4 linked regions of the Homo sapiens genome follow. The protein of the gene in region 2 purifies or fractionates together with the protein of the main gene of each other region. This does not show direct contact. Each region holds a gene or a part of one and is shown on either strand. Other genes may lie near its edges. The genes, in order: TF, GOT1, IDH1 and ANXA6.

Region 1 (5,775 bases), on a different chromosome or scaffold from region 2:
CTAGGGCTGCTTTGGGAGACAGAACCCAGAAACCTGGCATACTGGCAAAAGGGTAAGAATTTCTTACCAGCCAGACTCTGGTCTCTGTCTCTCTGTGCAAACTGCATAAATGAATAGTAAAAGTCACTGTTTATCTCCTCTGTAAAGTTTTGATTAATATAAAAAAAGAATTCTGAGGCCGATCTTAAGCTGTAGTGAATCTGGTGTGCTTTGTGTCTTTCTGTATTGTTTTGTCATAAAGAGGGGTACCTTAGAATAAAATGTGTGCTTAGGACCCCATAGACCTGCTGTTCAAGACACACCAGCAGACTGGTCAGTCATGTCTTTGGGAGCTTGACCTTGTAACCATGTGGCCATGCTTTCTCTTTTCACAGTGGCAGCCTGGGTTTAGGGTTCAATTCCTGGCTTAGGGAATGAGTCCTTTATCTTCTGTCTGTGTATTTATATGTGTTGTGTGTGTACTATAAAAGAGCATTAATTAATTAGCTTAATAATAATAAGAGCTTAAATCAAATATTTTATCAGAAAAGTAAAAAATGTAATGCCTTCTATTTACTTCATGTAACTTAAGTAATCTTTGGGAAATAAAGACAGTTTTAAAGATTATTGGTAAAATAAAAATATCTTCAAAATGTAAATATTTAGTCTAAATTATGCAGGTCAGATATTAGATTTGCAAAATGCTTTAAGGTCATAAACCGCTTCTTTGACTTTTAAAAATTGCTCAATTTATTTTGGAGCATTAGATTCTAGATAAGGCCTGGGGACAAATAGAATTAGCCATGTCCCCTAGCTATGCAAAGAAGGTTATAAAGAAAGGAGATTTTATATAAGAAAGGATCTTATATCGTAAATTCGTGTCCTAAAGTAAAATAAGCGGTTGTTAAAAAAGAGGGATGTTTAGGACAAGTTAGAAAGTCAAAGCATGTCGTAGATGGTCTGTGTAAGTCATGAAATAATTTACAAAAGAGAATTTATGCAAGAAATATACAATTTAACGGTGATTAGACCTCCTAAATGCTTCATAAAATGCCACTATGACTCTTAACTCTACAACTTGCCTGCTTTACAGCTCGGTAAGGCCTGAGACACGTGGAGTCAGATGCTGGAGTCAGACCTTAAGTGTACTTCTCTCTGGGTCCTAGACTCCACAACTAATATATAATTAAAATCCTTAACTTACCAAAGTTTTCACCAAAAGTAAAACTCGCTAAGAGTTAACATTGTAACATGTAAGTGAGACTACTGAAGCAACAGTTTTACATGCAAGTTACGTAAGAAAAGTGAATGCATTTTCAGTGAAAGATTATAACAAGGCATGGGAATGTAGATTTTTTTTTCTGTCTAAAGGGTTAAAGGATTGTTTTAAGTTAGGATAAAGCTAAAAGTTTGAATGAGTTGTGGAAGATTTATAAAAATTAATATTGTAAAAAATTATGTGTGTGAACATATTGACTAAATTTAAAGGGGTATTTTCTGGTTTTTCCATAAATTGAACATCAAAATAAAAGCACAAACAGGGTTTTCTTAAAGCACCGATCTGCTCTTTAACAAACATTTGTAAAGGATTATAAAAGGTTTATGAGAATCTCACCTTATGGTCAAACGGATTAAGATTGGAAAGATATGTCTACAAGGTTTTCTTAAAAATTGGGGTTGACATTAATAGCACACTAATGCAAGGGTGAAATTTGGCTTTCTCTCTTGAACAAGATTTTCATGCAGTATTAAAAGATAATGAAAGATCTTTGTTTGCCTTTTGAATAAACTACCCCCCCACCAAAAAAAAGGAAGGGAAAGACAAGAGACAGATTGTTTGTAAAGTAAGTCTTCCATCTATCAACATGGAAAGGTTTTTGCCTTTTAAAACATTTTTGAGTCATCATTTTGCTAAATGAATGACTATGGTAACCTGGAATTCCATTTCATAATGTCAAGTGTTTTAAATCTTTAACATATTTAATAGGCTTCCCAAAATCAAATTTCAGCTTCAAAATTGTCTTTTCTAACCTCTAACTTTGAGATGCTGCAGAGGGCCCCTGAAGCATCCAAAAGAGAGGTAAACAGAATTATTTGACATGTTTAATTACATGGGAAGCATTGTCAAAAAGAAAAAAATTTAATCTTCTTCAGGTTATATTTTAGTGAATAATATTAATATATGTTCCAAAATTGTATGAGATTTCTAAAATTCCAATATGTCTGAGTATATGCTATCAATCATAATTATGATTATTATGTTATTGTAGACCACAGAAATAACCAAATTTCCTTGTCAATTGTGTTTTTAACTATAACTATTTAAAGTCATTTCCACAGTTAATTGCTTAATGCTGATGCAGTTTCTGAAAACTTCACAAGCATGCAAAGTCCTAGAATATGGTGTCTTTTAGGAGATTCATGAAAGATTGGAAAGGACCCTAAAAAGCACTCTTGAATACAGGTTTCTAATAAGTTTAGAATTATATCATTTGAACTGGGTAAGAATTCCTGGAACTTTAATGAAAAGACTGACTGAGTTCTAAAACTGCTAACCCAAGTAGAACAAAAATTAATTAAATACCAAGAAAATACTTTGCCAGATTTTCATGCTAAATCAGCTGATACTGAAACTGTTTAGATATAAAATTTGAATAAACTCCATCATTTAAATCAAATTACCTATGATAACCCATCAGTTATCAGTGTTATGCACCTAATTTGGGGAAACAACTGGTATTCAAGAGGATATGAGTCTAATGTTAATTAAGCATGAACTCATGGAGAACCAGGATGGCCACCTTGTCCTTCCTAAGTCGTTAAAGCTTTTGTTAGTAAAATTTCTGCATTACATGACTCGTCACGGAAAAGATAAAATGATCCAAATTGAATATATTGATGTGGTGACTTATAAATTGCTAAAATAGTTTATAACCAATGTTTGGTCCCATATTCCTGGGAAAACAATCAAAGCTTCAGGTACATCCAGTCACCTGATAGGCCATTTAAACATTTTATAGAGGGATTTTATTCAATTGTTATTTTCAGTGCATGTTTTCTGGTTGTATAAAAGCTTTCCCATGCAAGAGGGCTGATGTTATAACACTAAGTTATTATGCCACCAAGTATTTTCACAAGGTAAAGAAAGCTTTTTATGGTTCACTGAGGACAATCAACTCCTTCACAACCTAGAAACTGAAGATTGTATCTTCTGAAAACATTGGATAAAGACTGTCCTTGCCATCCACACTACAGCAAAACTTCTGGACTTTGAACTTTGGGTTCATGATCTCACAACTGAGAAGAGTCCCTCCACACTCTTGGAACTGTACACCCATTGGAACCCTTAAGGTAAAGCTAACCAGGGAAGTTTCTCTCCCGAAGAAGATGGCATCCTTGATGTGAACAGCTTTTCCCAAGATCATGAATCAAGACTTCTCTATTATCATGAGACTCTTATCTTTGAATATTTTTTCCTTGCTTTTGCCTCTATGAAGAATAGAAGTGGAAAAAGGATCTGTTGTGTACAATTATGGGTTATACTTTTATTTGTGAAGAATTTTGCAGCCAGCTTTAGGTCCTTTTTCCATGATTTGGAATAAAAGAGGCAAATGTATCCCTCATAATAGGCTCCATAGCAGTTTACTGTAAAGGCTATGGTTACATAATAGACTAAATTATCTTAAGAAAGTTATGCTAAATAATAGAGTTGGCTAAACAGAAGAGTATCTGTGCAGCTGCTGGCACTCATGGCCTATGGAGAAAACATCAGGTATTATAGAGATTCAGTTGTAGCAAATTAATGAAGAGACTGCTTAGTTAAGTGAGTAGACTCTTTAGCTCATTGTTTAATCTATTTGAGTTTAGGAGGTTTGGTTTATGGTGACCCTGGATAAGGAGCATACTTACTCTCAACTCTTGGTATTATCCTCCTGATAGTCATAATAATAGTCTCCCTGGTGTGCTGTATTCTCTCAACGGTTTTAAATGTTTGCATGCTGCCACCTCTAGAATGTCAAATGGCCTCTCTTCAACTGGAATGACAAGAGCTGAAAGAAATTGCAGCCATGAGGACACTGTAACCTACGAATGATGTGCTGAGTCCAAAAGCCCAAAGTGTTGGTAACTGAGAGTGGTGCTAAGTAAGGCCCTAAGTTTTGGTCACACTCTCACTTAAGTGAGAACCTGACCAAAAAAGTGGAATTTTTTTTTTTTTTTTTTTTTTTGAGATGGAGTCTCACTCTGTCACCCGGGCTGGAGTGCAGTGGCACGATCTCGGCTCACTGCAAGCTCCACTTCCCGGGTTCACGCCATTTTTCTGTCTCAGCCTCCCGAGTAGCTGGGACTACAGGCACCTGCCACCACGCCCGGCTAATTTTTTTGTATTTTTAGTGGAGACGGGGTTTCACCATGTTAGCCAGGATGGTCTCGATCTCCTAACCTCATGATCTGCCCACCTCGGCCTCCCAAAGTGCTGGGATAACAGGCGTGAGCCACTGCACCTGGCCAAAAAGGGGAATTTTTTTTAAACAAAATTATGGGAGGTCATTTTTTTGTACTGAGCCCATGCGCCAGGCCCCAACAGACCAAACTAAACCAAAACGGAGTCACGTATGCCAAGACCTTAAGGAAACACATAGATCCTAGAACAGACCACAGGCCAGGTTTTGTTTTTCTCCTACAAATCTCTATAACAAACATTCCTGACAGCATAGATATCCACCCCCTGAGTTCCCATTAAATCTTTTAACCAAATTAATTTCCTCTCGCCAAAAGACCATCAAGCTTCAGATGATCATGCAACAAAAGTTTCATCCAGTTCCACCACCCCTGGCCATCAAGGAGCTACCCTGCCTTCACTAGAAAGAGCAGAGCAGGACTTCTGTGATCCTCAATAGGTAGGGACTAGGCCTCAAGCCAACATGAAGCAGTTACAAAAGAAAGACCATCGGCCCCTCCACCTCCCATAAAGATTTATGGGGATCCCATCTCTGGAGGGAAATGAGGCAGAAGAATAGGGTCTGTAGGCAAGGAATATAAGGCAGATGCATGCTCACTTCCTAGAACTAAATCAAATGGAAACACTTCAGCTATGATGGGAAATGTCTTCTGTATTTACATAGGGCATACACTGAGTAACCAATGGAAACCTCTAGAGGGTATTTAAACCCCAGAAAATTCTGTAACCGGGCTATTGAGCCCCTATGCTCAAGCCCTCTGCCACCCTGTGGAGTGTACTTTTGTTTTCAATAAACCTCTGCTTTTGTTGCTTCATTCTTTCCTTGCTTTGTTTGTGCATTTTGTCCAATTATTTGTTCAAGAAGCCAAGAACCTGGACACCCTCCAGTAGTAACACTACTGGACATATAGTGGACAAAATTAAGTCCTTATTTGAAACATCTAGTCTTCTAGATGTTTAGAAGTGCACACAGTATGTTAAAAGTAGAGGTAGTAAATAACACATTTTGTAGATATCCTTTTGATTCATATGAAACATTGTCTTTTGGAAATTGATCAAACCACTTCACATTATATTTATGCTGATTCAGGGAGGAAGGAGCAGAAGAAAGTGCAAAGGGCTTTATATCAGTGTGTTTACAGTATGACACAATTGACTGTTGTCCCTTATATCTGCATTTCCTTTTACTTTGCTGTGTATACAAACAAACATTTACATAGCTTTGGAATTTTGAATTGGTAAATATTCATGATGTGTGAAAAAGCATGATACATACTGTATGATCCCAATTGCATAACATTGGATGGTGTCCTAATTTATAACATCTAGTCTTTCTA
Region 2 (7,893 bases):
GTCATTCAATCTTGGCTCCTCATTTAACAGATGAGCCCCAGGGATGTTAAACAACCCTTCCAAGTCACATGGCTGGACCACGGTGCTGGGCCTGTACCTAGGTCTCCTGGCTCTTCCCACTACAGTGTACTGGCTACCACCTGGAGGTACCTGAAATACAGGTGTGGGCAGAGACTCTGAGGCCTGAGAGACCTGGCCTGGATTCCCAGCTCTACCACCCAGTGGTCAAATGACCTGGGGCAAATTGCTTCACCTCTCCAGTCTTCGGCTTCCTTGCCTCTAAACAGTAATAGTAATAAACCACCCTCCAGAGTTGTGAGCATTCAGTGAGATTACATGCATAAATAATTTGCTCATGGTAAGGAGTTGGAGTTCCTGGAAAACATGACAAAGGCACCTTCACAGCTGAGGTGGCCGTCTGAGTCAATGACTCCAATTCTGAGTCCATTGCTTCTGGCCTGTGCTGTCGGGGTGCTTTTTCTCTGCAGGAGCAGTTTATTTCTGAACCAAGGTCATAAATTAGTTCATTTTGCAGTTCTTGAACTGAAAATTTTTATTCAATATCTTTTATGAGAATCACTCAAAGAAATGCCAAAACAACAATAACAGTAATACCTAACACTTATATAAATCCTACTTATGTGCCAAATACAGCTATAAACACTTTAAATGTACTTAATCCTCACAGAAACCCTGTAAGATAGTTCAAAGGTAAATTGAATTAATAAAATAAATCTGACGTGGTTTTTTGTTTTTTTTTTTCTTTCTTTCTTGAGACGGAGTCTCACTCTGTTACCCAGGCTGGAGTACAATGGCGTGATCTTGGCTCACTGCAACCGCCACCTCCCAGGTTCAAGCGATTCTCCTGCTTCAGCCTCCCAAGTAGCTGTGACTACCAGTGTGCACCACCACGTCTGGCTAATTTTTGTATTTTTAGTAAAGATGGGGTTTCACCATGTTAGCCAGGCTGGTCTCGAACTCCTGACCTCAGGTGATCCACCTGCCTTGGCCTCCCAAAGTGCTGGGATTACAGGCGTGAGCCACCGTGGCAGGCAAAATCTGACGTTTTAAAAAGATGTATTTAGATTGACAGTAATACTAGTTCTTTGTATACATCCCGCTGCAAAGAAACGCTTGGAGGTTTTGGACTGGTTTTAAATTAAGAGACCAAATGGTGTCCATTCAAATTCAATTTGAGGCAATCTTTCAACATTTCTCCCACTCAGTTGCCTGCTAAAAACATCATTTTCCCTCAATGGGCCAAACTATGTAGTACTGACTTATCTTAAAAGCTTTATGATGAAAAATTTCAAACCTATACAAAAGCTGAGAGAATAATATAACGTATGCCCATGTACCCATCATCCAGCTTCAACAAATTACCCGCTTCAACAAACCATCACTTTTCAATGGATTTTTCCTTACCCCTCCCCATACTCCTTAGTGAAGACTTTTTTTTTTTTTTGAGAAAGAGTCTCGCTCTGTCGCCCAGCCTGGAGTGCAATGGCACGATCTCGGCTCACTGCAACCTCCGTCTCCCGGGTTTAAGCAATTCTTCTGCCTCAGCCTCCCGAGTACCTGGGACTATAGGCGGCCAACACCACGCCCGGATACTTTTTTGTATTTTTAGTAGAGATGGGGTTTCACCGTGTTAGCCACGATGGTCTCATCTCCTGACCTCGTGATCCGCCCGTCTCAGCCTCCCAAAGTGCTGGGATTACAGGCCTGAGCCACCGCGCCCGGCCGACTTTTTTTTTTTTTTTTTAACAAATGCTATGCACAGACAAAACGTTATCTATGAGAAACCTGATTCTGAGCGTCCTTCATGTCACACTCTGCTACAAAATGATTCCACCTTCTCTTTCCACAATTTCTAGTCCTTTTATTCTAAGTCTATTACCTAGCATAAGACTTTATCCTACCCATTTTCATCTCTCTGGCTGGTCTTTGCACGTGGCAAAATCCAAATGGAGAAAATAAGTGTCTGTGGGGCTTCAAACATCCAAATGATAGTGAGAAGAATAACAAATTCATCAGAGAGGGTTAGGGGTAAAAAATTTGAGAGGCACTCCAATATAAATCTTCTTGGCAGATGGGGAAACTGAGGCCCATGCTCTGAGCTGTCCAAGGTACAGAAGAGAATCACTTGAATCAAGAAATGAAGATAGGATGTGTGGAAAGTAAGCTTCTACCATCCATACTTCTCTCCACTCCTTTCCACCATCTCTACCCATTCCTACCACATCTGTGACGGCCAGAACCATCTCCCCAGACCCCCCGGGGGCAGCATTAACCTGTCTCAAAGCATTGTGTAACACCAGCAGATTTTTAAATCCTTAAGGGCAAAATCAAGCCTCAGTCTCCCCCTACAAAGCTTAATAAGGTGGCTGATTGATACTCGGTGGTCACTCAAATATTTACCGACTCAGAACAGAGCTTTCTAGCGTTAAAAGTTCTCCTTTACCCATTTCCTAGCAACCAGAACCCTAAGCCTATCAGGCTTCCTATTTTTCTACCTCTCTCTACAAGCTCCGGCAGCCTCATTTCTTAGGAGGATGCAGTATAAAGAAGGCAGAATGGGGAATCGGAAAGACTGAGTTTGTGTCTTGGCTGCTACACCTGGTTTGTGCGGCCTCGGACACATCGCCCCTTTCCAGGGACTCCACACCTGCATCTGTAAAATGGGCAGGTTTTAGGAAGCCTTCGTGGATCCAGCCTCCTCTCCGGCGCCGCCCTCTTCAGGCAGCGCCACACTGGGCCTCGGCTTCTCCCACAGTCTCCACGACCTGGGTTGGGTCCGCTCCACTCCCCGAGCTGCTCACACTCCAGAGCACTACATCCTTACCTCCCACTCCCAGGTTGACCTTGCGGGGGTCCGGATCCTCCCTGAAGTCGGCAGTGAGCTTGAAGACCAGGACAGGCTGGGCCTGCGGAACCTCGGCAAAGACTGACGGAGGTGCCATATCGAGAGACTAGGAATCAAGAGATTTCACCCCACGCCCGGAGCTGGCAGGTCAGGTCTGGCCGTTGCGACTGGAGGAGACACTCACCTTCACCTAGCCGGCGGGGGCGGGCCCGCGGCCTCCAATGGTCGAGCCGCGTCCAAAGCTTGGCAACGCGATTAACCAATCGCCAGCTTCTGACGACGAAGGCACAGGGGAGAAGGAACGCTATTAGCCAATCCAAGAAAACAATTTATCGGCTGCCGAGAATGATGCAACCAATGCAATTTCCTCCGGCTGAGGCGTGGGCGAAGACTACGGTTGATTGGTAGAGCGTGCTCCTATCGCAGAGGCTGTTATTCCTTGGGTCTCCCGGCTGAGGGGAGGAGCCGAGCGAGCGGCGGGTGTCCCTGAGAGGCCACCTTTCGACCTTCGAGGGCCAGGAGGATACGGGGAGGTGGCCGGAGGGAGTTCCCGAACACAGGTCTTCCTGTTCCCGCCGAGCAGGTGTTGGCGGTGCCAGGCCCGGCCTGGCGGGCCCGGGCTGGCAGCCAAATACCCAGCGTCTGTGCTCGGGACGGGAGTGTTCGTCCAGGACGTGCAGCTCCGGAGCCTGCGCGGGCGACCTTGACCACCTTTGTCGGCTGTTTCCCCCTGAGGGAAGTATACCTGTCCTGCCAGCCTTGGTCTCTGGCAGGGAAGGTCCTTCCAACAGAGAGGGGTGCGCACGAATTCCTTTTTGCCGCTCTTCTATTAATAGTTTGAGATTTTCCTCCCCGATTCCTTGCAGAGAGGGCCTGGTCCTCAAGGACCTCGGGATCTGGGCGCGACGTCCCTTCCCAGCTTCCTCCCGCGCGCACCGGACCAGATCTTGCTGTCGTCAGCTGGCTGGTACCCAAAGTTCCTCTTCGTCAGGCTGTTCCTTCCCCGTTAGAGTCCTTCCTCCCCAGGAGCCCTCTCCATCTGCTGACCTTCAAGACCCAGAGCGAATGCCACTTCATCCATGAAGCCTTCCCTTAACCCTTATCTGGCCAAAATGTCTCTTTCCTGTGCTTCTGTACTTTCACAATTTTAGAAAATGCCTTTGTGGTTAAAAACCTATCTCCGGGACCGGACTATCTAGGTTTAGATTCTGGCTGCCGCTTACGAATTTGGGCAGGTTTAGTCAAGTTATTTTAACCTCTCTGTGGAAGTTCCTGCTCTGTGGAAATAATAGTATTTTCCTCAGAGTTGGTGTGGGGAGTTTGTGAGTTAATACATTTACGAAGTGGTTAGTTGCATGTAAGAAGGACTCTCTAAATGTCAGCTATTATTAACATTGCATATCTGCCACACCCTTCATAGATGGTAAACTGCTTTTTTTTTTTTTTTTACTTTTATTTTAGGTTCGGGATACATGCACAGGTTTGTTTTATAGATAAATTGCTTGTCATGTGGGTTTGTTGTACAAATTATTTTGTCACCCAGATAGTAAGCATAGTACTTGACAGGTATTTTTTCTGATCCTCTCCCTCCTCCCACCCTCTAGCCTCAAGTAGGTCCCAGTGTCTGTTGTTCTCTTCTTTGTGTCCATGTGTTCTCAATGTTTAGCTCCCACTTACAAGTCAGAACATGCAGTATTTGGTTTTCTCTTCCGCATTAGTTCACTTAGGATAAAGGCCTCCAGCTCCATCCATGTTGCTACAAAGGACATGATCTCTTTCTTTTTTATGGCTGCATAGTAGTCCATGGTGTATATGTACCGTATTTTCTTCAGTCTACTGGTGATGGGCATTTAGGTTGATGCCATGTCTTTACGATTGTGAATAGTGCTGCAGTGAACATACATGTACATATATCTTTATGGTAGAATGATTTATATTCTTTTGGGTATAGACCCAATACTGGGATTGTTGGGTCGAATGGTAATTCTGTTTTAAGTTCTTTGAGAAATCGCCACACTGCTTTCCGCGGTTACTGAACTAATTTACATTCCCACCAGCATTGTATAAGCATTCCCTTTTCTCCACAACCTCACCAGAAACCAGCATCTGTTATTTCTTGACTTTTATTAATAGCCATTCTGACTGGTGTGAGATGATATCTCATTGTAGTTTTGATTTGGGTTTCTCTAGTGATTAGTGATGTTGAGTATTTTATATGCTTGTTGGCCATGTAGCTTCTTTTGGCTAGGGACCTGTGAGTCTCCCTAGGTTTCTTGCACTTACTAAGCCTTCAACAAATGGTAGAAGAGTCAATTCTCTTGGTGTTTCAGAAGAAAACAATATCACAGCCCCTCTCCACTGGATAATACTATAAATCTTAAAATGAATTTTCATTCAGAGTAATAAACACAAGCCAAAGAACTTTGTATAACATCCGTCAACTTTTTGTGTTATCTATTTCTTTTCCAAAACATTGCCTCTGGTTTTAAAGGTAACTGCCCACAGTGTTTCACTAATAACATTTTAAGCATTACAAGTTCAACACTGAAGGTCAAATGACAACGAACTTTCAGTGCTTCCAAAAGCAGGGGCAGAGGGCAACTGCTGAGGGGGGCATTGTATAGCCTAACCTTCCCAGAATTTGATTTAAAAGTATGATCTTCACAGCGTTGGCCAGCAATATCATGGTCACTCCCTACGTCATTCCCTGGGAGAAAAACAACCCTAGGTTACCTAAACAATGTTGGCGAAGACCAAATATTTATTAACATCCTAAGCCGCCCCATAATCAAGCCAATGCTGATAGGGACAAAGAAGGTGCCATGTGCAGTTTTTCTCCATGTCCCCACAATATCTGCTCTGAATTTTAAAAGGCAATTACTGGGGGAGAAGGAAGCCTATATATTATGTAGGATCCAAGTCTCAAACTGCTTTCCTAGGGAGTGTGAGGTTCTTGGAGATTAAGTGCAGTACCTTTCTGTCTTGAGCCTTGTAGGCTGCCCCTCTAATTTAATGCCAGTCTTGAAATAAACAGAATGCTTTCCAAGTCATCGCTAATTTTAACACTTTAAATTTAGAATTGCTTAGAATTGACTCAACACTGCCTCCTTGCTGAATGGATAATTCAAGCAAACAACTCAAGAGCTGGATGCTGCCCAGACAGGTAGGCAGCCAGATAAAGTGAGTGTCCAGGGAAAGAGCAGTAAGGGTCAGAAGAGAAAGAGCCTGGTGTTCTCACTGCCTCCTGCCTTCCTTATGACTGTCTGTTCAGAAGTCCTCCTAGCATCTTTCTTCTGCCTTCCCCTGCTCCTGTCCCTGAAACCTTTTCTTCAAAAGAAGTGGAAAAGAGGAACTGGGAACCCATATAGCAACAGCATCACCTGGAATGAATTCCTTTAGAACATACTGTCTTGGAAATCTGAAGCCTGCAGGGCTGGACAGGCAAGAAGAGCAGTGAGCACTGCATGAACCTGTAAGTAAATCTGCATGTGGATGGTGTTTTGGGTTTTTTTCAGACAGAGCCTTACTCTGTTGCATAGGCTGGAGTGCAGTGGCACGATCTTGGCTCACTGCAACCTCTGCCTCCTGGGCTCAGGTGATTGTCCCACCTCAACCTCTCAAGTAGCTGGGACCACAGGTGTGCACCAACATGCGCAGCTAATTTTTGTAGAGATGGGGTTTCGCCGTGTTGGCCAAGCTGGTCTCGAACTCCTGGGCCAAGCAATCGGCCTCCCAAAGTGTTGAGATTACAGGCGTGAGCTACTGCACCAGGCCACACATGCTTATTTTACTCAGTCTTGCCCCTGAATACCCGAAGGTCTAAACTTAGGAAAAAGTCAGGGGAGGGATGAGTTTGTCATTCTTTGGAGTCGTTATATTTGGGTGAGTGCTGGCACTATGGGTAGGATATTATTTAGAAGCTGAGTTGTGTGCTGAGCAAATGTTTCTTTAAAAACCAAAGCCGTATGAGATCTGTTATAGAGGCACAGTGTGGCTAAATAGTGTGCGATAAGATAAGCATAGGGCTCCTGAGGTGTTGCTGTTCTCCCACTGTAATGAGTTTACTCTTCTTCCTAAGGAAAGTGATCCTTTATCACCTCTCCTCTCAAATTCACTGGCTTGTTTCGTGAGTGTGCCTTCATGGAATCATGTCTCCTTCTCTTCCCTCAGTTCTCTCCTTCCCTCCCTTACGTATGACTCCTCCCATAATCCGCACACATGGATTGAACCAAGTGAGGGTATTTTTCTGTTTCCTACCTCATAGAAGGGCATAGAGTGGACACGGTCTAAGGTTAGTTCCTGAACTGAGTACCCACATATGCAGAACTTTATTTAAAGCTGCTGAAATCTTTGTATAACAGATAGATCAATAGGACTGAAAACTACTGATGGTTTTACTTACTTGTTGAACGTGACTAAGTTCCATGGCACCATTTAGAAATTGTGTTGTATAGTTTTCGTATGTTGCTTAAGAAACAGTTTAGCATAATGGTTAAAAGCATGGCCTCTGGAACTAGATTGCCTCTGTATGCCTCAGTTTCCTCATCTGGGAATAATAATAGTTCTACCTCATGGGATTGCTATGAGGATTAAATGATTTAATTTAATTAAATGATTTCATACAAAACTGAATTGTACTTGACACTTAGTACTCAGGTATTAACTGGGACCGTTATTATCATCACAGATGTTGTTTACAAGCACTTGCCTTTGAGATTTGTTTAGCTTTTTTATTAAATTACTAGCGGTATACTAGAACAGTACGTAGGCTGGGGCCTGGAGTCAAATTCTAGCTTTGCCTCTTATAGTTTTGAAACTTTGAGTAAATTACTTGATGTGTCTGAGTTTTAATATTCTTATATGTAATTTACTTTTAAAAAGAATTTTGCTTAGTGTTGATATACACACATTTAACACAGTTATAGAAATTATTGTTTTTACTATTGTCATATGAGGAAATTCGTCCCTGGGTTGCTGTAGGGTGCTAATGGTTAGGCAAACTCTCTTTGAAGTCTGCCTGATCTGGC
Region 3 (7,026 bases), on a different chromosome or scaffold from region 2:
AAAGACAAGGAGATGATTATGCATTTATCTTAAAGCACAGAGAGAAGGTTGGCAGAAATCTGCTGTGCATGAATTATATACATTAAATATTAATATTCTCAAATCACCCAGCATATAATCCTGCCCTTTGCTCTGGTAGGGCTCTTGTATCTGGAAGAGGTTTCCTTATATATTTGCTGAAGTTTTCTTCTTGCCCTTCTGGGTATTTATCCTGTGAAAAAGTAGAACATTTGCTTTTTGCCTTTTCTTTCCCAGCTACCCTGCTACCTTTGATGGCAAATCCCACCCAAAAGTTGTTGAAATAATTAGTGGGCCCTTTTCCTTCACTATTGAAGTTGTTGAAAGCACTCACACAAACAAAAATACCCAACACTCACCTACCTTTTGTTTTTCTTGCCTCTTCCAAATAATATCTGTTGGAATCTGGTTCTGCAGGCTTCAGCACCTTTCACCCTGAACCCAAGTTAACCCTGAGCATTGGCATGGATTCAAGTTCTATCTTTAAGTAATAACAAAGTTCAATAATAGTTGTAAAACACAGTGATTACATGTAGCATAATTATTTCTACTTATTTCTACCAACTACAGTAGGAGTGCTCAGTATCCTCCAGGAGATTATAAGAATTTTCATTCAGTATTTGAAATTTAAGTTTTTCTCAATAACTGAGGATTGAGTACACCCCTAAAGTTTAAAATAGATGTTGGGAATTGTAAAGGTAGGGTGTTTGTCCATTCTTGCGTTGCTATAAAGAAATACCTGAGGCTGCGTAAGTTATAAAGAAAAGAGGTTTAATTGGCTCATGGTTCTGCAGGCTGTACAAGCCTGGCTCCAACACCTGTTCCTGGTGAGGGCCTCAGGAAGCTTCCAATCTTGGCAGAAGGCAAACAGACAATAGGTGTATCACATGGCAAGAGCGGGAACAAGAGAAAGAGAAGGGGGAGGTCCCAGACTCTTAAACAACCAGATTTCAAGTGAATTAACTGAGCGAGAACTCACGTAATCACCAAAGGGGATGGTCCTAAGCCATTCATAAGGGATCCAACCCCATGTTCCAATCTCCTCCCACTGGGCCCCACCTCCAACACTGGGAATCACATTTCAACATGAGATTTGGAAGGGACAAATATCCAAACCATATCAGTATGTAAAAGAAGTTTCAAAATTATTTGCCTTTTCTTAAATGTATTTCTGGTTCATATCAGTTTTTGGCATTTCTGCATCTTCAGGATTTTAAAGACTGTATGTTTTTTCATTTCTGCTGTCCTTCCAAAACAAGTTAGAATGTCCTTATCTAGAACTGGCTTTTCTCTCATTATGTGCCTCAGAAATTTGTTGGAAACCTGTCTGGGACTTCTGAAATCTAGTCTCAGATGTGAGAGCTGAGAAGTAGGTCATTTGGTTGTGGTGGGTGATTTTAGCCTTATTACAACTACATTACATTTATTCTTCTCCCTTTTTTCCTCTCACTGGCTTCTCCTCTACAGAAGGTGGTGGTGTTGCCATGGGGATGTATAATCAAGATAAGTCAATTGAAGATTTTGCACACAGTTCCTTCCAAATGGCTCTGTCTAAGGGTTGGCCTTTGTATCTGAGCACCAAAAACACTATTCTGAAGAAATATGATGGGCGTTTTAAAGACATCTTTCAGGAGATATATGACAAGTAACTATAGTTCTTTTTTAACTTTTTCTTTATTCTCAAGTAAGCTGACATTTGCATATAGAGTATGTATCTCCCTATCCCTATGATTCTGGGTAAATTGAGTGAAAATCATCACTGTCTCTTAAAGATAAGGGCAAAACTGAGGTTTAGCAGGAGTGAAACAAAACCACTCTGACTTGCTTTTATAAGATAAACATGTTCTTAAATAAGGTCCCCACATGAATTGTTTTCAGAGCCAGGTTCTTTAATGTTTAAATAAACGTACGCTGTTAGTGATAAGTTCTAATTTTTCATGTGTGAGTTTCTAAGTCAGACCCATTTCCATTCTTTCTGAAGCCCATTGTTAGAATTTAAAATTCTGTTGGCCAGGCACGGTGGCTCATGCCTGTAATCCCAGCACTTTGGGAGGCCGAGGCGGGCGGATCACGAGGTCAGGAGATCGAGACCATCCTGGCTAACACGGTGAAACCCTGACTCTACTAAAAATACCAAAAATTAGCCGGGCGTGGTGGCGGGCGCCTCTAGTCCCAGTTACTGGGGAGGCTGAGGCAGGAGAATGGCGTGAACCCGGGAGGCGGAGGTTGCAGTGAGCCGAAATCACGCCACTGCACTGCAGCCTGGGCGACAGAGCGAGACTCCGTCTCAAAAAAAAAAAAAGAAAAGAAAAGAAAAAAAAGAATTTAAAATTCTGTTTTAGTGGAGTCATTTGAACTTAAGTCTAAGTTTATAACAACACTGGCTTCCACAGCACAGGAGGTGAGCATGTGTTAATATTTAAGATTGGCATAACTCCCTTTAGGTGCAAGTGTTCAGGCCAAAATGTTCCTGAGGCATTTTGATTCCTCCTCCTGCTGCCCATCTATACCAAGCCCAGAAACTGTCTGGAATATATTTTAGTTTCCTGAATGACACCAAGAAGTAGAACAGTCTTTTCAAAAATGTATTTTAAAAATAAGCTGAATCTCAAGAATCTGATCTATAGTATAATGAAAACTGAAAAGTGAAGTAGTCATTGGGATACTCTACTGTCTCACTTAATTCTCACGGCTTCCCTGCAAGGTGGGTAAAATTGTTCCTACAGATAGTCAAATTGAGTTTTACAGTTAGAAAATGATTGGGCTAGGATTTGAGCCAATGTCTGTCAGATTCCTGAGTTTCTGCTACTTCTACTAAAATATGCTGCTTCTTGTGTGTCCGGTCTTCTGTTTGGGACAAGCAGATGATATCCCTAACAAAATCAATTTTCTTTATTATTATTCTCTTTTACCTTTTGTTTCCCAGGCAGTACAAGTCCCAGTTTGAAGCTCAAAAGATCTGGTATGAGCATAGGCTCATCGACGACATGGTGGCCCAAGCTATGAAATCAGAGGGAGGCTTCATCTGGGCCTGTAAAAACTATGATGGTGACGTGCAGTCGGACTCTGTGGCCCAAGGTACAGAGGTGGAGCCTGGCCTGTAGGAACAGGGTCATTCCAGGGTAGTTCTCTAATTTGGGAAGGGGAGTTTTGTAGTCCTTTGTTGTAAAATCTTGGAATGTTAAACCTCCAGGTCCACCGTCTTACCTGACAGCTAAGGAAATTAAGCTCAGACTAGAGAAATGATTTACTCAAGACCACATGGGAAGTAAATTAGTGGATTGACACTCCTGGCTCCAGTGTCACTCCTTGAAGTTTTAAAGCCTACCTGATCTGAAAATCACTCCCTTTCCCTGCCCTCCTTGTCCTTTGGTGAAAATGTAAAAAACCAGGGCACTCAGGCAAGGAGGGATAAAGTGAGGAGCTTGATCATGTCATAACCAAGCTTTGGTGCCTGCAAAGCTCATTTATTGGGCAGCAGGACCTACTCATGTCCCTCTGCCAGCTGCTGTTCTGGTAGAATATAAAACAAATGTGTTTGGCTGGGCACAGTGGCTCACGCCTGTAATCCTAGCACTTTGAGAGGCCAAGGCAGTGGATCACTTGAGGCCAGGAGTTCAAGACCAGCCTGGCCAACATAGCAAAACCCCATCTCTACTTCAAAAAAAAAAAAAAAAAAAAATTAGCCAGGTGTGGTCGCATGCCTATAGTCCCTGGCACTCAGGAGGCTAAAGCATGAGAATTTCTTGAGCCTGGGAAGCGGAGGTTGCAGTGAGCTGAGATCACGCCACTATACTCCAGCCTGGGCAACAGAGCAAGACTCTTGTCTCAACAACAACAAAGAAAAAGTGTTTTTGTTTACTGCTTAGCTTACACACAAATCAATTGAGCAAAGAACCCTAGGGGCTGTTTACAGAAATTCCAGGAGAAGTTTCATGCATGGGGTAAGGGCCAAATCAACAGAAACACAGCGCCTGGTTTCCTCAGCACCAAGTTGCCCTTCAGTTTCAGTTGCCCTTGGTAGCTGTATGAACTTGAATCTCCCCAGATGAATGTTTGTTAACTTTAATTATGTTTGTTTTTCCCAAGAAGTACTACTTTTTCTGTCTCTTATCAGTGTTAAACATCTCCTCTCAGTTTGAAAATCAGTAGATCAACCTGGTTAAAGATAACTTTTTGCCAGATAAATGAGTTACACAACTCTCCTTACCATCCTTCTGTTTCTCTACATCCTCACAATCATTTGTACTGAATGCAACAGAGGAAGGAGTGTTATTGCTTTGTGATGACTCCGTGGTTGATTATTAACTTCACAGGTGATGTTGGGAGGTAGCAAAAATGGAGAAAAGAAGAAAATCAATTATATAGATATAAGAGTTGTAATGTGGTTCTTTCAATAAGAAACCACAGAAGAGAACTGTTGTACTGAGGGTATGAAAGAGAGCGAGGAAGGGCAACTGGGATGTTCTTAGATCCAACCGATCCTGTGTTTACCTGCCTTCTCTTCCCAGTCCCAGCAAGTGTATGAGCAGCTTGAGGGTTCTTAAGAGACAGCTCTCGTCCATCTTTATTTCCCCAGAACAGCAGAGCATTGCACATAAGAATAACAATAATAGATTGAGCTCTGTGTCCAGTACTATTCTAAGGAATATAAATATATATTCATATATATTTATGAATATATGTATATTTATCTAATCCCACAGCAACCTAGTGAAGTAGGTGCTGTTATTACTCCCATTTTACAGATAAGAAAACTGAGCCGCAGTAGCTATGAAGTCATAGAACTAGAGTGGAATGTAGGCAGTTGGACCCTGAACCCTCCATCAAGGAGTAGGTATCCCTGAAATAAGTGAGGGGAAAATGCAGCCTTTCCAGACCCATTGGCTCTGATATCTGGAGCGGGGATCCTGCCTTCTGAAAGGCAGAATTATTGGTGATTCCATGTGCTCTTGTTTACTTTGCTTACCAAGACCTATCAAGATTGAGTCATTTATGCTCTCATCTCTGAGAGACTCAGTGCTCTTCATGCAGTTGGACCCAACGCTTCATGCTCCACTACTTACAGGGTATGGCTCTCTCGGCATGATGACCAGCGTGCTGGTTTGTCCAGATGGCAAGACAGTAGAAGCAGAGGCTGCCCACGGGACTGTAACCCGTCACTACCGCATGTACCAGAAAGGACAGGAGACGTCCACCAATCCCATTGGTAAGATGGTGTTTACATTGATTTCTCACCAGAGAGTGCTCTCCAAAGCAGCCCAGATGTGTTCCCTTGGCTGCTCAGTGTTTTGTGTGCAAAGTCATCACCAAGTAGCTGATTTGTTCTACTAGTAAGATCTATTTGAATATGCTTCTTAAAATATACAATATTTGCTTTTCTGTTTTGTGGGAGAACATAGGTTACAGAGAGGAATGTTATCAACAAGCATTTTCCTTTACCTCTGGTGCAGTGAAATGTCACATAAGGCTACAAATCTAAAAGTCACATGGATAGATCCTTTTAACAAGTTTCAAAGATAGCACTTCAAAAAGAGATTACAGCCTGGAAAAAGGAGACCAATATAGACAAGAGATAGAAGAGATTGTGACCTTTTTCAAATTAGAAAATGCCTTAAGTTTCAAACACTAGTACCATGCCATGAAAATGTGTTTTTTTAAAGTTTCTGTTTGGTAAAATATTTCTAACTCTCCTAAAACTTCTAGCCCATGTGGTTAGTATCTAAAGAAGTCTGTCACCTAAACAAAAAACTATTCTGTTTTGGGGAACTATGAGACATTTGGAAACCTCTATAACTAGGATGATTGGAGTGTTGTGTTTTTTTTCCCCTCTTTTAGCTTCCATTTTTGCCTGGACCAGAGGGTTAGCCCACAGAGCAAAGCTTGATAACAATAAAGAGCTTGCCTTCTTTGCAAATGCTTTGGAAGAAGTCTCTATTGAGACAATTGAGGCTGGCTTCATGACCAAGGACTTGGCTGCTTGCATTAAAGGTTTACCCAAGTAAGTATAAGATGCCCTAGTTTCTATGGTCAAATTAACACTTATCCTCACTGGGCTCAGAGCATCGGTGCTTTCTGGAATTATATAAATTGTTATTCATCATCTAGTTCAGGAGTCAGCAGATATCTGTAAATTGTCAGATAGTGAACATTTTAGGCTTTGTGGAACATATAGTCTTTTTGCAACTACACAACTATTCAACTTTGCCTCTGCCATTGTAGCAGGAAAGCAGTCATAGACAATACAGAATCAAATGGTGTGGCTGGTACCAATCAAACTTTTATGTTCAAAACCAGCCTCGATTTGGTTCATGTGCTGGGCTGTAATTTGCTGACATCCCATCTAGTTGATAATCATTGAACGAAAAGGTTCTATTTAATTTTAAGAAGCAGATTATAGACAAATAGAAACAAAGATACTTCAGAGGCTATTTTATTCTACTCCTTTATTTTCTTTAACTTACTGATGAGAAAAGTGAGCAGCACAAGTTTAAGGTGTGCAATTGATTACAGTCCCTTAAGTATCTGTAACCAATATTTGGGCAAATATTTGACAGCCCATATGTTTACTGAGAATTTTTCTGAGAACATAGTAGCCAGTATCCTGGGGGGATTGTCTCCATATCTCAACCAGTGCATCTGCAGAGGTCCCAGGTAGGGTCAGTATACCCCATAATGGGGATATACTTGGTCACTGCATGTTTCTTAATTTAAATTTCCAACAAGATTGCAGTGTTCGCTGGGTGCTGTGGCTCATGCCTGTAATCCTAGCACTTTGGGAGGCCGAGGTGGGTGGATCACGAGGTCAGGAGATCAAGACCATCCTGGCTAACACAGTGAAACCCCATCTCCACTAAAAATACAAAAAATTAACCAGGCGTGGTGGCGGGCACCTGTAGTCCCAGCTACTCGGGAGGCTGAGGCAGGAGAATGGCGTGAACCTGGGAGGCGGAGCTTGCAGTGAGCCGAGATGGTGCCACTGCACTCCAGCCTGCGTGACAGAGCGAG
Region 4 (7,577 bases), on a different chromosome or scaffold from region 2:
CAGGCTGGAGTGCAATGGTGCCATCTCACTGCAATCTCCACCTCCTGGGAGTGATTCTCCTGCCTCAGCCTCCCAAGTAGCTGGGATTACAGCATGCACCACCACGTCCAGCTAACTTTTTGTATTTTTAGTAGAGATGGGGTTTAACTATGTTGGTCAGGCTGGTCTTGAACTCCTGGCCTCAAGTGATCCACCCACCTCAGCCTCCCAAAGTGCTGGAATTACAGGCATGAGCCACCGGGTCCGGCCTCTCCCCAAATGGTAACATAAGAGTGTCTCAGACTCGGTCCTTAGCATCGTGGGTGATCAGCAACTATTTGGGGCTGGCGGTACAGGCAGTAAGAAGAATTTACCAAGGCAGTTGTAGGTAAAGAAAGGCAGATTTATTAGAGAAAGTATGAAAATACATTGCTGCCAGACGTGGTGGCTCATGCCTATAATCCCAGCACTTTGGGAAGCCGAGGTGGATCACGAGGTCAGGAGTTTGAGACCAGCCTGATCAACATGGTGAAAACCCATCTCTACTAAAAATACAAATATTAGCCAGGTGTGGTGGCACGCACCTGTAATCCCAGCTACTCAGGAGCCTAAGGCAGAAGAATCGCTTGAACCCGGGAGGCGGAGGTTGTGGTGAGTCGAGATAGTGCCACTGCACTACAGTCTGGGCGACAGAGTGAGACTTCATCTCAAAAGAAAAACAGAAAAGAAAAGAAAATACGTTGCAAGGGTGCAACGGGCAAGTTAGCAAAACAGAAGCTAACTGCAAGAAAACAAAATCTGGCTAAGGATTTTATAGGATGGTGCTTGTGCTGTGTGCTGAAGAGGGCTTTGTGCAGTACTGATAACATCAAGGGTGCAGGGAGCTTGCGTGCATTTTTCTATCAGGTGAGGGTCTGGCAATAGCTGGGCGCAGATAAGATTGTGAGTTATTCGCACAGGAGGGCTATGCATCCTGGGCCATGAAGAAAGGCAGACTTATAGCTTATCTGCTTTCTCTTTTTGCTTTCCCTTGGTCCTGCCAGCCTGACTCCTTTTGCCGAACTAGGACTCCATATTTAGTTCTCTTCTCCCTTAAGGATCTCATCTCTTGAACTCCAGACTTGACTAGCCAACTGCGTACTTGACATCTCCTGTTGGGTGTCTAATAGAAATGTTCAACAAACTGGTCAAAAACTGAACTCCTGATCTTTTCCCCACTTCTAATTCCCAAAATTGCTTTCCCTGCAGTCTTGCTCATTTCAGTTGATGGTAACTCCATCCTTCCAGTGGCTCAGGCCAGGATCCCTGAAGCCATTCTTGACTCTTTCTCATCTCCCACCTGATCCTTCGGAAATCATGTTCAACCTTCAAATACATCCCATCTCCAACCACTTCCCCCACCTGCATTTATACCAGCCTGTCTCTTGCCTGGATTACTGCAAAATCTCCTAGCAGATCCCCTTCTTCTACTCTTCCCCCAACAGTATTCAGTATTTCCAACACAGGAGACTTCAGTGACCCTTTAAAAAATATGTCTTGGCCAGGTGCGGTGGCTCACACCTGTAATCCCAGCACTTTGGGAGGCCAAGGCAGGTGGATCACCTGAGGTCAGGAGTTCAAGACCAACCTGGCCAACATGATGAATCCCCGTCTCTACTAAAAAAATACAAAAATTAACTGGGCATGGTAGCAGGTGCCTGTAATCCCAGCTATTTGGGAGGCTGAGGCGGAAAGAATTGCTTGAACCCACGAGGTGAAGGTTGCAGTGAGCCGACATGGCACCACTGCACTCCAGCCTGGGCAACAGAACGAGCCTCTGTCTCAAACAAACACAAAAGTCTTATCCAGAATATAAAAAGAACTCATATAACTTAACAACAAAAAAGACAAAAAATCCAATTTAAAAATGAGCAAAAAGCATGATTAGATATTTTTCCAAAGAAGATGTACAAATAGTGGCCAATGAGCACACAAAAAAGATACTCCACATCATTAGTCAGAAGGGAAATGCAAATCAAAAACACAATTATAGATGCCATTTCATAATGACTAGAGCACAAGTTTTTTGTACTTTTGTTTTTTTGAGACAAGTTCTCACTCTGTCGCCCAGGCTGGAGTGCAGTGGTGCAATCACGGCTCACTGCAGCCTCTACCTTCCAGCTTCAAGGGATCATCCCACCTCAGCCTCTCCAGTAGCTGGGATTGCAGGCATGTGCCACTACCCCTGGTTAATTTTTTGTAGAGATGCGGTTTCGTCATGTTGTCCAGGCTGGTCTCAAACTCGTGGGCTCAAGCAATTCACCCACCTCGGCCCTCCCAAAGTACTGGCATTACAGGCATGAGCCACTGTGCCTGGCCGGGTACAAATTTTTAAAAAATAAAATACAAGTGTTGGCAAGGACATGGAGAAATTAAAAGCCTCATACATGACATGGCTGATGGGAATATAAAATGTTGCAGCCACTCTGAAAAAATGTTTGGCAGTTCCTCAAAAACTTAAATGTAGAATTACTATATGACCCAGCAGTTTCATTCCTAGGTAAATACACAACGACAATTGAAAACAGGTACTCAAATAAGTATTTGTATGCAAATGTTCATTAGCAGCACTATTCACAATCAGCAAAAGGGGGAAACAATGCACTATCCATCAACAGATGGATGGATAAACAAATTATAGTGTACTTATACAACGGAAAATTATTCAGCCATTAAAAGGAATGGAGTGCTGGACCGGACACGGTGGCGCATGCCTGTAATCCCAGCACTTTGGGAGGCAAAGGCGGGTGGATCACCTGAGGTCAGGAGTTCGAGACCAGCCTAACTAACATGGTAAAACCCCATCTCTACTAAATACAAAAATAAATTAGCCACACGTGGTGGTGCATGCCTGTAATCCCAGCTGCTCGGAAGGCTGAGGCAGGAGAATTCCTTGAATCTGAGAGGTGGAGGTTGCAGTGAGCCGAGATCACGCCATTGCACTCCAGCCTTGGCAACAAGAGCAAAACTCCAACTGAAACTAAAAAAAAAAAGGAATGGAGTGCTGATACATGCTACAGTGTGGATGAACTTCAAAAACATGCCACATGAGGCCAGGCACGGTGGCTCACGCCTGTAATCCCAGCACTTTGGGAGGCCGAGGCAGGTGGATCACCTGAGGTCGGGAGTTCAAGACCAACCTGACCAACATGGAAAAACCCCGTCTCTACTAAAAATACAGAATTAGCTGGGTGTGGTGGCGCATGCCTGTAATCCCAACTACTCGGGAGGCTGAGGCAGGAGAATTGCTTGAACCCAGGAGGCAGAAGTTGTGGTGAGCAGAGATCACGCCACTGCACTCCAGCCTGGGCGACAAGAGTGAAAAAACAACAACAAAAACAAACAAACAAAATGCCACATGAAAGAAGTCAGACAAGAAGGGTTGCATCTCATGTGATTCCATGTATATGAAATATCCAGAATAGGCACATCCGCAGAAGCAGAAAGCAAATTGGTGGTTGCCAGAGACGAGGGGTAAGGGAAAGTTAGGAGTGACTGCTCAGTGGGTATACTGTTTTATTTTTCCGTGAAGAGAATATTTTGGAACTAGATAGAGGTGGTGGATACACAACATTGTGTCTGTACAAAATGCCACTGAATTGTTGACTTTAAAATGGTTAATTTTATGTTGTGTGGATTTCATCTACCCAAAAATAATACCCTTTCTTTGCTCAATATCCTGCAATGGATCCCCAGTTGACTCAGAGTAAAAGACAGCGTGCCTTCAAGGGCCCCGGAGGTCCCACCTGATTGGGTCCCTCTTATCTCTCCTCTCCCTCCCACTCACTCCATTCCAGCCACACTGGCCCCCCTGCTGATCCTCGGAGGCGCCAGGTGGCCTCCTGCTAGGAGCATTTGCTCCAGCAGTTTCCTCTGCCTGGAACACTTTCCGCAGGTATCTGTCCAATTCTTCTAACTTCCTCATCTTCTCCTTACCAATCCCCTGGGGACAATAATTCTCAGTTTCCTCTGTATTCTCAGTTTATCAATTTTTCCTGTTCTAGCGCTGGATTACAACTGCTGGTCTCCCTGCCTGCCTTCCCTGCTTCCCAGAGCACGAAGAAGCTTGCCTCCGCAACCCACTATTTGTGTGACCTTGGTCCAGGAACTGGACTGGGCTCTCCTCCTGAAAGTGGGTAAATAATGTCACCGACCTAATGAGGCTGTTGAGGCATGGAATCTGATCAGGCAGATAAAGTGCCCCTGGCAAACCTCAATTTTCTGTTTCTCAACAAAGCTTTGGCGACTTATAAGAATTTGCGGGAAAGTGTCCAGAACCCGGAGTCAGGAGCCCTGACTTCTAGCCCTGAAGGGCCGCGTGACCTTGGCCAAAGCCCCTAATCCTTCTCAGTCTCAGATCCGGGGGCTGGAAACTGAGGAGGTTCTCCCGGCAAGCCCCTCGGGCTAGTGACATTCTAAGATTCCAAGAGCTAAGGAGCTAGAGGGGTGGGGTGGAGGAGGGAGGCGGGCGCGCCGGATTGGCCTCTGCGCGCCACGTGTCCGGCTCGGAGCCCACGGCTGTCCTCCCGGTCCGCCCCGCGCTGCGGTTGCTGCTGGGCTAACGGGCTCCGATCCAGCGAGCGCTGCGTCCTCGAGTCCCTGCGCCCGTGCGTCCGTCTGCGACCCGAGGCCTCCGCTGCGCGGTGAGTGGGCTGAGGCTGGAGAGGGGAGTCGCTCTGGGAACCCCTTCCCGGGGGCTGCAGGGACACAAGAAATAAGCGCCCAGTCATCGGCTGATGGGTACCCCCCGCCAGGAGCAGGGACGGGAGGGCGCGGTAACCCGAGAGTGTCGCAGACTGGGTGTGTCTGGGGAGCGCAGCGGAGCAAATCTGGGGTCGGGGCGGAGAGGCGCGGGCGGAGGGCGCCCTGGCTAGGGGGAGGGGAGGGAGTCCCGTTGCTGCAGAGGGTCTGGTTGAGGGTCCTGGGCGCCGGAGCTGAGCCAGGGGCTGGTCCTGCCGGCCTTAATTTGGGGGGGCTCAAGAGACTTTGAAGGTCCGGGGTTGGGGTCAGCTGGACGCCAGTCAAAGGACCCGCAGAGAAGGGTGTGGCTGAGGCCCAAGACTGAGAGCAAGAGCGTTGGACCCTCCAGCTGCTTATAAAATGGCTTGTGTGTGGTGTCGGGGGAGGGCTGCCTGCGTGCAGAGAGCTGAACGTCCGGTCGTACATACCTCAGGGCCTCATTGGACCCCATCCCCTTTGGGCCACTGCTTGTCTATGAATGCAGTCTCCCAACGGGGCTCCGAGGCCTCCTATGGTGAGGCAGGGGCACTACCCTTCTTTCTGCATCCCCTAAGCGGTCTAGGCCTTCCCAAAGTTTGGGGGCTTCAAATAATTCCCCATATACCAGCATGGGAGCAAAATACCCTGAATCGGAATCCCAGCCCCTGTTGCAGTGTGACTTTGGGCGGTGGCTTTCCCTCTCTGAGCCTGGATTTCCTTCTCCAAGTCCATAGTTGAGAAACCCAGTCTCTTTCAAAGGAAACAATGGCTTTGAAAACTGATTTATTTGTCAGCTGTATGGAATGATTGCAGGTTTGGGAGTCTTGATTATAGATTTGGGAAGCCTGGCACAACCCTTGTAGGCCCTACAAGGGGAAAGGGCAGGAGGTCCTTTGGGACAACTAATCTGGCCACGGCTTCCTGCCTCCTCCTTCCTTTCCCTAGATTCTAGTGGGTCTTCTCTGACAATTCCAAATTTGGACATATGGCTCCCGGGTTTGTGAAAGGACTCTGGTTTCCCCCCAAGAGTCCGCCCTTTTCCCTCCATTATTCCTTCCCCCTTGCCCAAAACATGCTTGGGATTGCTTCCACTGACCCAGATGGCATATCCTGACCTGCGTAGCCCTTCATGGTGAAGTGAATGACCGCCCCAGTTTCAGCCCCTGTGGACCCTGACCTCCTAGCAGGCAGGCCCTGAGCCACGCCGAGGGCACTGGCCTGGGGTCAGAGGAAAGCCCGGTTACAGTCCGGATGTGCTGGGACTTCTTGAGCAAGCCCTTTCTCTAAGGCTTTGTGCCCCATCTGGAGCAAAGTCTGCTGAACTGGCTGCCACTGCCAGTGCAGACATTCTAGGATTCAACTGTTCTAAGATTTAGGATTCTGGGAGTTGGATGGGACTGGGGAGGGCAGGAGGCAGAGGCTTTCATCCCCCTCTGCAGCTGTGACAATCACTCATCCATCTTTCTTTGCCTTATCTACCCTTTGTTCCTAAGGCAGCATCTGCTGAGATACAGAAAATACTTGCAGTTTCTGGATAAGGGCCACAGCTGTTGCTGGGGCAAAATGTAGATGTGAGTGTGCAGAGGAGGGGCCAGGGAAGCCCAAGGCCTGGCCTCTTGAGACTGACTCCTGGGATGAAGTGGGGGAGACTGCAGTGCTGGATAGCTGCCAGTGACTGGCACATCCGCACTGCAGCATCCAGAGGGAGCCCTGGGCCACCAGGATCCAGCCTCGGACCCAGCCCCTGCCCTGCCACTAATCAGCTAGGCGCCCTGGGCACACCTACTACCCCTCTGGGGCTTAGCCCCTTCCTCTCTACAGGGATAGGACATATACCCAGGACACCCCACTGGTATTAATAAAATGGGTTGGGTCTGAATGGCTTTTGCTCTACCATTCTAGGATTTTCTGGGGAGGCCCAGTGGAATCACCAGCCTCACCCCACCCAGCCTCTCCGATATACTTCCTGGGTGGCGACAAAGCACAGGATGTGGTCTCTACCGTGATTCCTGAGCATGCATGCACCCCTTCTCCTGCCAATAGAGGGGAGGAAGTCGGAGGGGTGTCTTTATGCCTATAAACTTGCCTTGGAATCCAGCCTCACTCCCTTTCCTCCTGGAGTTGAGAAGCCCCCACAGAGACTGGCTATGGGGGAGTGACTGTCTATAGGTTCCTTGGATGTCCTGCCTATCTGCAAAATGAGAATGAGATCGATACCTTCATGAGGCTGTAAGATGGCAGATATAAAAGTGCTGTGTTATCTCAAAAGGGTGTGGTGCTTGAGAAGGCAGGCGACCTGAGCCTCAAGTTCCTCTTCTGAAAAATCCATGTCCTGGTGGTCCTTAAATAATAGCAATAAAATGGTAACCACTATTACCTCTCGAACCCTTAAATTTGCCAGGCCCCGGCTGAAGCCTTGCTATGTTAGACGCTGTTATTAATGCCTATTTTGCAGACATGGAAACTCCAGCCCTTAACAGTTTAAGGAAGAAATAATAATGACAAATGCTTATAAAATATAGTGCTTCCTGTGTGCCAGGTCCTCTTCTAAGCTCTAGACTTGTCTTAATTTTTTTTATCCTCATCATAACTCCTATGAGGGAGGTGCTATTTTTATCCCTTTTTTTTTTTTTTAATATGAAACAGGCACAGAGAGGCTCAATACTTGCACAACACCACACAGCTACTAAATATCACCCTCAGGCTTCAATCTCAGGCAGTCTGGCTCCAGCATCTATACTGTGAGACACTACTTTGCTGCCTCTCACAAAAGTGACCCAAGCTGGGGTTCAAACCTAGGCTAGACTAGTTCCAATCCTGAGGCAGAGAGATGATCTCCT

What was found.
Region 1: the proteins of GOT1 (region 2) and TF purify together in Homo sapiens (affinity purification with mass spectrometry; 2 studies listed by BioGRID and IntAct, with this or other methods). This does not show direct contact.
Region 3: the proteins of GOT1 (region 2) and IDH1 fractionate together in Homo sapiens (co-fractionation; 2 studies listed by BioGRID). This does not show direct contact.
Region 4: the proteins of GOT1 (region 2) and ANXA6 fractionate together in Homo sapiens (co-fractionation; 2 studies listed by BioGRID). This does not show direct contact.

Annotation. Positions count from the first base shown.
Region 1 is NC_000003.12:133,791,389-133,797,163, forward strand, and holds the end of TF (serotransferrin isoform 1 precursor), read left to right. Parts: 3' UTR 1-5,253; downstream 5,254-5,775. UniProt on the Homo sapiens protein: Transferrins are iron binding transport proteins which can bind two Fe(3+) ions in association with the binding of an anion, usually bicarbonate.
Region 2 is NC_000010.11:99,427,603-99,435,495, forward strand, and holds the start of GOT1 (aspartate aminotransferase, cytoplasmic), read right to left. Parts: upstream 3,023-7,893; 5' UTR 2,964-3,022; coding exon 2,846-2,963; intron 1-2,845. UniProt on the Homo sapiens protein: Biosynthesis of L-glutamate from L-aspartate or L-cysteine. Important regulator of levels of glutamate, the major excitatory neurotransmitter of the vertebrate central nervous system. Acts as a scavenger of glutamate in brain neuroprotection.
Region 3 is NC_000002.12:208,238,064-208,245,089, reverse strand, and holds part of IDH1 (isocitrate dehydrogenase [NADP] cytoplasmic), read left to right. Parts: intron 1-1,485; coding exon 1,486-1,663; intron 1,664-2,944; coding exon 2,945-3,096; intron 3,097-5,086; coding exon 5,087-5,227; intron 5,228-5,856; coding exon 5,857-6,019; intron 6,020-7,026. UniProt on the Homo sapiens protein: Catalyzes the NADP(+)-dependent oxidative decarboxylation of isocitrate (D-threo-isocitrate) to 2-ketoglutarate (2-oxoglutarate), which is required by other enzymes such as the phytanoyl-CoA dioxygenase.
Region 4 is NC_000005.10:151,154,764-151,162,340, reverse strand, and holds the start of ANXA6 (annexin A6), read left to right. Parts: upstream 1-4,561; 5' UTR 4,562-4,661; intron 4,662-7,577. UniProt on the Homo sapiens protein: May associate with CD21. May regulate the release of Ca(2+) from intracellular stores.